3 separate regions of the Homo sapiens genome follow, and regions 1 and 2 are each linked to region 3. Evidence: fine-mapped expression QTL. A gene starts in region 3. Each other region holds a variant in brackets. All regions are shown on one strand. Distances are between the middles of the regions.

Evidence for each region.
Region 1: its variant is fine-mapped to the expression of TMEM215 in tibial nerve (GTEx, PIP above 0.99).
Region 2: its variant is fine-mapped to the expression of TMEM215 in putamen (GTEx, PIP above 0.99). The same link has a PIP of 0.9 or more in anterior cingulate cortex, caudate, prefrontal cortex and substantia nigra.

Annotation. Positions count from the first base shown.
Region 1 is chr9:32,722,649-32,725,406 of GRCh38, forward strand. All of the region lies in intron 4 of LOC105376017 (a long non-coding RNA gene), which reads right to left. Among named protein-coding and RNA genes, the nearest start is that of TMEM215, 60 kb to the right of the region's middle. The variant G/A (reference allele first, on the strand shown) is at 1,538.
Region 2 is chr9:32,884,924-32,887,681 of GRCh38, forward strand. No RefSeq gene overlaps it. Among named protein-coding and RNA genes, the nearest start is that of TMEM215, 100 kb to the left of the region's middle. The variant T/C (reference allele first, on the strand shown) is at 1,278.
Region 3 is chr9:32,782,189-32,784,946 of GRCh38, forward strand. It overlaps TMEM215 (transmembrane protein 215), which reads left to right and starts at 1,352. Exons shown (of 2, transcript NM_212558.3): 1 at 1,352-1,617; 2 at 1,938-2,758. The coding sequence starts at 1,996. The coding sequence ends at 2,703. LOC105376017 (a long non-coding RNA gene) reads right to left here and starts at 718. Exons shown (of 7, transcript XR_929559.2): 1 at 455-718.

The DNA of each region.
Region 1 (2,758 bases), 60 kb before region 3:
TCACACTAGCATGGGCCAACGATGAGGAGGGGAGGGGAATAAATTCCTAAGCACTTCCCGCTCCCTTTTATAGAGGAAAGGGGGCTCCAATAGCCTGAGGGCAGCCCTCTGAAGACGAGTTGCAGATGCTGATTGTGAGAAGCCACACGGGCAGGGGCAGAGCACAAGACAGTAAAAGTAGAGCTGAGATCTGATACAGCACTGACACTGTCACTATGAAACCCTCTAATAGAGTGTACATTTGCTCATCAATGCTTCCGTATGAGTCAGTCCTTCACGGTAATCAAAGAGAAACTGACATATGCATCCAGGTCACATCTGCACGGAGTAAAAGCAGAGCCTGTGCTTCCACGTGCAGAGAATGGAGAACATCTGTCATCTGGGTCCATGTACTTTTGGAACAAACCTCACTCACAAGTACATTGAAATATACTATGTATACTAGCAAGGCTATACTGCTGATGCTGCACTGAAATGGAATTTCTGTTATCAAAACTCGATTTCTATATGGGAGGCACATGTATTCACATCTGTGTTCATTTCTGCTAATAAAACGCCCATGCTCCTCACTGCATCTAACACAGTCGAGCATTCCAGGTCCCCACAATCCAACTCCATTTCTTGAATCAGCTTTTTCTCGGCCAGACTCCTGCCATGTGCTGCTCCTCATCCACACGCTGTGTCCTGCACGGTAGCCACCAACTAAACAACATGCACCACACTCAGAGCTAATATGGGTTATGGGTGTCTCTTAATCCTAACAATAACTCCATGTCTTAGATGCTATTTTACTTAACAGTTGAGAAAACTGCAGTCTGATGAGGTAAAGTCCAAGTTCTCTAAGTAAGAAGTGGAGCTGGCATTTGGAGTTAATGCTTTCAGCTGCTGCACTGCTCTGCCTCCGTGGACACGGTCCCCTCCTTCCAAAACCCCTTCCCCATGTCAGAATGTCAATACCCTACCATCATCCAAGGCCTTGTTCAAATGCCATATTCTCCACAAAGCCTTTAAATCAGGCAGAGTTCTTAGAGGAAAGGGACAGAAATCTAACGTATGTAAAAGAAAATGTATTAGTTTCAGTGGTTGGAAAGAATACTGGGGTGGCCTACATGTTCCGAGGGATGGCTGCGGGAACCCTAGGGATTAATGCAACTAGAATTTTCTCTCTAACTCTTTCATTTTACATTATCTCCCCCAGCCCAACAGGCTCAGAAGTATAAGACACCCTCCCCCTTCTCTGTCATTGTTCATTTATCATCCCAGGAAAGACTCTGATGAGCCCTGTTTGGGTCATGTGCTTATCCCTGCCCTAACCACAGAGCCCAAGGGAATAGAGTATTATCATTAGCCAGGCCAAGGAGGCTGGATTGTTACACGAGAAAGCAGGTGGGAGGAAAACATTCCAGGCAGTTCACAGCACTTGCTCCCACAGTTCATTACATTGTCCATGAACACCCAGATAGAATCACTCTGTTCCAGTTTCTCTGCCATAAAGCAACTATTTATTGTGCTCATAGATTCTGTGGATCAGGAATGC[G/A]GGTGGGACACAGTGGGGATGGCTTGTCCCTGCTCCACAGTGTCTGGGGCCTGAGACAAAAGACTCTAGGCTGAGGCTGGATTCATCTGAAGACTCACTCTCCGTGCCTGGCAGTCGATGCTGGCTATCGGCTTGTAGCCTCCGTTCCTTTCCACATGCGCCTCTCCATGTGGTCTCGCTGTACAAGATGGTTGGGCTTTCTCACAGCAAGGTGGCTACGTTCTGAGGCTGAACATCTTAAGAGAGAGAGAATGCGTGCCGTGTGAGAACTGTATTGCCTCTTTTAATTTAGCCTTACCAGTTCTGCTGCATTTATTTGGCTGGAGCTTCCCAAGCCTGCCCAGGTTCAACGGCAGGGGAAATAGATTCCACTTCTTAATGAAGAATGGCAAAGTTCTACAGAAATTTTGCTGTAGACATTTTCAGAAAATACAGACTGCCACACATTTTTTCCTATGAATTCTTTCGTGTATGTTTTCCATATCTTCCCTAAATTACTATGAGTGCTGTGAGATAGTCATCTTTGTATTTCTATGCAGTGCCTTGTACAGGACCTTATACACAATCAAGCTTCAAAATATGTTGGTTGGCAAAATGCCTCTGACAGCAGCATCCCAATTTTTCTACCAACAATTTTTTTTCTTTTTTTTTTTTTGAGACAGTCTGTTGCCAGGCTGGAGTGCAGTGGCACAATCTCAGCTCACTGCAACCTCCACTTCCCAGGTTCAAGTGATAGGAGAATCACTTGATTCTCAGCCTCCCGAGTAGCTGGGACAACAGGCGCGCACCACCATGCCCACCAAATTTTTGTACTTTTAGTAGAGACTGGGTTTTGCCATGTTGGCCAGGATGGTCTCGATCTCTTGACCTCATGATCCGCCTGCCTCAGACTCCCAGAGTGCTGGGATTACAGGCGTGAGCCACTGTGCTGGCCTCTACCAACTATTAATAGCTGTGTGACTATGAGAAAAATTACATAACATTTCTGAGACTGTTTACAAACTGAGAGAGCTTAAGTTTGTGGTTTCTAAATATTCTGATTTAGCAGCAAACGACAAATCACTTTCTTCAAACCACACCTAATATAGAACCTCGGTATGCAAAACAGACTTTTTAAAAAGCAACAGCAAAGATGCTATGGTTGAAGCAGGTAGAAGAGGAGTAGAGAGTGACCCACTTCCCTCTCCCTCCCCCTGGCTACGTGGCTGACCCTGAGACAGC
Region 2 (2,758 bases), 100 kb after region 3:
CCAGTCCCATGGAGTGCCATAGAATTGTCTTATCCCTCTTTCACATACAGACCTTCTACTTCTTGAAAACAGTAATCCTGTACCCTTTAAATCTTTTATTCCTGAGCTAAACATCAGAGTCAAATTCCCTGAGAGCTATTTTATCTGTGAGGCACACGAAACTCAGTGGCTAGGGTCCATTGCTTTTCAGGGGCCTATGGAAAAAAAAAAAAAAGGTTCCAAGATACAGATAACAAAATTGAAATTAATAGCCATTTAATTAACTACCTGAAAAATGTAACATTATGTCAATGTCATTGTTAAATTTATTATTCATTTATAAATTTATTACAGGTGAGAACACTTGTAGATTAGATTCTCTTGTTTTGCAAGAATTCCTGAGTAGGCACACTGATTGATTTATGCCTACTCGGGAGAGTAGACACAGACAATTGTAAATTGAATAATCATGTATAGGCAAATAACTTCAAAGGCAAAAATATAAAAATCCCTTCAACATTTTTATGGAAAATTTTACATTTAATTCAAGATGTGGGTGCATTTTAATTCGTTTGATCTAAGTGATGATGCCTCCAAAAGAGTCTACATAAAGCTTAAAATGGTCCTGAGTCTTCCATGGCCTAAATTTCTCCATGTAGGCCAACATAACTTTTAGTAAAATTGCTCCTTGTGGCTTCACAGTTTATGTAATTTCTTCTAGTTGCTGAATTTGACCAGTAAATTGAACCCCATTTACATTTGTTTGGAAGAAAATGAAGTTTCTGGGAGCACTCTGGGTCCTGCCACAATTCCACCAACATGACCTATCATGTTGTCAGAAGCGTCCTCTCTCCACACCACACAAATCTAATCTCTTCCAGACATGATGAGAAACTGCTGTAACTCTGGCAAAAGAGCCACTGAAGTCAGCCACATTGCCAAGGGCACGGTTTTAATTGCCTCAAGGAGCCCTGGGGTGCACGGGCAGCACCCTAAATATATTGTAGGTTAAAACCATCTTGCATCCAGACACAGACTGTTAATTCTGTTAAACTTCTTCTATTCAAGTGATATGCCAGGTATCGAAAATGGGCAATTCTTTAAAGGTGCAACGGCTCTGTGAGTGCTCCTTTCACAGGGCCTAACGTGAGACCATCTGGCACAAAGGCTTCATCTGTGATGCCCTCAGAAGTCACCAAGAGGAAAAGCTGGGAGGATCTGCTTGTGAATTCCTAGGGCCGGTAATGATGACAAACCTGCTTTCTAGAGGGCTGGGCCTATGGGTCTTGGCTTCAATC[T/C]CAGGCCTGCGGGAAGTCGTGGGGAGCTGGATGATTGAGGCAATAGTACTGATGGTCTCTGCCAAAGCCACAGCCAATTCTAGAACTGGCTTCCCTGCTGGGAAGATGAAAGCCTGAGTTTTATCTGGGTTCTAGGAGGACCTCCAGAGTTCCTCTTCCTTAGGCAGGAAACAAAGCAAGCTCTTAAAGGGGGCAGGGTAGGGAACATGGGGCTCTGCATCAAGGTGTGTGTAGAAAAAGCTGCTACCCAAAGCTACTCTGTTCTCAGAGGCTCAGCATCCTGAATGAGGATGCATTTGCCTCACAAAAGCCCTGTCTCAGTCAAGCCCTTTGGAGTCTATCCAAGGTGACCACCTGCCCTATCTTCTAAGTCTACTTGTTCCATCTCTGTGCTTCAAACCTGAGTTTGCCTCTGTCCCAGCCCTTCAGATTGATGTTCAGATCAGCTTGGGTCTAGTCTCTGGCTTCTCTGATGCTGTCTGCAGGCTTCCCTGTACTCCCAAAGCCAGTCCTGACTCTAAAACCCAGCCAGGCCTGCAGAGCTTCACCATCTCTGGTTGTCCAGGCAAAAACTCTGAATGCTGTAATGCAGAGATCACTAGAGCTTCTATGTAGAGACTCAGCCAAGACCCTTGAAGAAGGGAGACAAGTTTGGCCATGAAACAATAAACCACCTTTAGAAACTCAACAGCACTTATTGGGTGCCTGTGGAATGGTGCTAGGCACTGTGGGTACAGCAAGCTCTGCCTTCACAGAGCTTAGAGTCACCTTCAGACCTGCTGAACAGACACTCCGCTTCCTTACCTTCTGCTGGTAGCATGGTGTTTAGGCTTCCAGGGCAGCTTACCTCTTTCCAGTTCTGATATGGGCAATAAGAGAAGTCACACCTGTGTGGACCAACACCACCGGGAATAGCAATAAAACAAGGGATCAGACAACCAAGGTACATTCCATCCCTTCCAGCTGATTCTTTCTAGTTTATGCATTGTTGCTCTGGGAACCCCAGGATCTATGGGTATCTTCAGCACAGATCCATGAAGTTGCAGCTGTAGAGCAAAAGGAAAAAATATATAATACACGATAAATACCCTAGGGCTGTTTGGTGTACTAAACATTGAACTTGATCTTTCCACTGGAATAAGGAGAAGTAATTTACCTCATTAGAGAGTACATGGCAGCAAGAAAAATATAGCTCATGAACCATATTTATTTTCCATTAATCTTAAAACAACATCCCTCATCCAGATTAAAATACTCAAAACCAAGGGCGTATGATTGATTAAAGAGAAACAACCCTGAATCATGGGGTTGATTCCTGGAGGGGTAAAACAAGGAGACAGATTATTTGCTCTCTTATTACAGATTCCAAGATAAAACTCCTCCCACCTATGACCATGGATGGATACTGGCATCTCTGAATCTTTCAAAGCTTGGAATATCTAACTTAAATCTTTCCACAGTATCATTTAATCCTTATTCTC
Region 3 (2,758 bases):
CAGCCTTTATGATTTGTTTGGCTCCTGTCATACATGATGAAGACACTAATTATGATGACAAATATATATACATATACATGTGTACGTGTGTGCATGTGTGTGTAATTTTTGTACACAGACTATGTACCAAGCATTGTGCTAGGAACTTTACGTTTATTTAATCCTCACAATGTTTCCTCATATATTTGGTATTAATCTCATTTTACAGATAGGACGACTGATTCTCAGAGAGGTTAAGTCACTTGCCCAGGAATATACAGCTAGTTTAACTGGGGAAGGCCTGGATGTGAAAATTCTTTCCAGTAAATCAGTGTCTTGACATGAAAGCATGTACCGCTCATCAACCTGTTCTCCACCGCCCTCCTCTATCCTAAATGGGCAGCCCTGTTGAAGAATCACAGCCAAAGCCAGTCTTGCCCCCCGGGGCCAGAGGAATCCATCTGCCCCTGCCTACCAGAGCGGGAGGAACGCAGGCTCTCAATGCCTGCTTCAGCAAGGGAGGAGAGAATCGCCCAGAGCTGAGCGGCGTCGTAGGGTGGTGGTCCTGACCGGTCAAGGCCCCTTCTCCTCGTGAACTGGGGGCCAGGGAGCCCTTCTCCCTGTCCCCCCGGCACCACAGCGCTGTAGAAGTGAAATCCCGGCTCCAAGGTCACCCTCTCCCGAGCCTGGAGCTGGAAAGCCACGGGGACTCCGGGGACTCCCCCAAGGCCCGGACTAGCCTGGCACCCACCCCTCACCACTAACCCACTCCGCCTGGGCGCTGGTTCTGTGCGCTCCCGCGGCGCAGTCGCTCCGCTGCAAGAGCGCTTTCGCGCGCCGCCACCGCCCAGAGCCGGGACCAAAGCAGTCCTCGGGCACCGGCTCCCCGAGGGACACACACCCCCCCGCGCCCCGAGTCGAGGGGTTGAGAGAAGGGCGGTCGGGGAGCCCCTGGGCCTGCCGTCAGTCACCCGGATTTGTAACTGGAGAAGGGTGCGGGTCCCGGAGGGACATCTCCAGCTGGCACCTAACTCCTCGGATCCCGGACTGGGAGCCCGAGCTCGGATATTGCAACGGCTGCCCCGTGGGCAAACCGACCCTGGTTTCCGACTCCGGCCACTGGCAGCCTCGCGCCCCAGACCCTTCCCGGGCACGGAAGCGGGTCAGGTCGCCCTGCTCAGCCTCCGGAACGGCGGCGGCACAAACCCCGGCCGCTCCCAGCAGCCCCGACGAGACCCCGGGCAGCGCCTGCCGCCGGGTGGCCTCCCTCTGGGGCTGACCCCCTCGCGCCCCCGCGCGTCTGTCTGCGTTTCTGAGCCTGCTCTGACAGTGATGTAACAAGGCCAGGCTCGCGCCGCGTCCCCTCTTTCCCAGACTCAGTGCTCCCTCCTCCTCCCGCGCCCCGCGCTCTGCGCGCTGAGCTGGCGCCGGGCTCCGCTTGCACAGCACCGGGACCGACGGGCACTGCTGGGAGAGCCGCTCTCCCAGGTTCCACCTCCCCGATGCAGAGTCCGTGGGGGAAACCAGGCTTTCCTCCCAGAACCAAGGGAGCGAGCCGAGGGGGCAGCTGCTGTGGGGGCTTCTGAGGAGACAGCCTGGCTTCTTTCCCTACTTCCTGGAGAGGGCAGGAAACCTCAGGTACCTCGTTGACCCCAGCCGGAGCGTGTTGATATGAGAGAGAGACGGAGGTTGCAATAGTGAGAGGAAGAGAGGGAGGGCACAAGAAAGGGAGGGAGGGAGAGGGGACGGAGAGAAAGAGTAGAAATAGAAACAGGGAGAGATTGCAAGAGAAACGCAGAGAGAGAGATAGAGAGATTGCAAGAGAGATACAGAGACAGAGATCAAGACTGAAAGTCAAGAAGCAAGTCGGAGACAAAGGGCAAGAGAAAGACAAGAGTTGATGGGTGGGAGCTTGACTTGGATTTTTTTTTAACGCACTGTGGTTTCATCTCTGACAGAATAGAGGAACGCTGCTCCCTGGTCAGCAAGCAGCCCCCAACCTGGATGGAGTGAAACATGCGGCCTGATGACATTAACCCGAGGACTGGGCTGGTGGTGGCCCTGGTCAGTGTCTTCCTCGTCTTTGGTTTCATGTTCACCGTCTCTGGGATGAAAGGGGAGACTTTGGGAAACATCCCCCTCCTGGCCATCGGGCCAGCCATCTGCCTACCAGGCATCGCAGCCATTGCCCTGGCCAGGAAAACCGAGGGATGCACCAAGTGGCCAGAGAACGAGCTGCTGTGGGTCCGCAAATTGCCCTGCTTCCGGAAACCCAAAGACAAGGAGGTGGTAGAGCTGCTGAGGACCCCTTCAGACCTAGAATCCGGCAAGGGGAGCTCAGATGAGCTGGCTAAGAAGGCGGGCCTCAGGGGGAAGCCTCCCCCACAAAGCCAGGGTGAGGTGTCCGTGGCCAGCTCCATCAACAGCCCCACACCCACGGAGGAAGGAGAATGCCAGAGCCTCGTCCAGAATGGGCATCAGGAGGAGACGTCCAGATACCTGGACGGCTACTGCCCCTCGGGCAGTTCCCTCACCTACAGTGCCTTGGACGTCAAGTGCTCAGCAAGGGACAGATCTGAGTGCCCTGAGCCTGAGGATAGCATCTTCTTTGTGCCCCAGGACAGTATCATCGTTTGCTCCTACAAGCAGAACAGCCCGTATGACAGATACTGTTGTTATATCAATCAGATACAAGGCAGGTGGGACCACGAGACCATCGTCTAATCTCTGCCTACAAAGGTGGCTGGATTGATAGAATATGACTAAGCCCAGCTCCCCG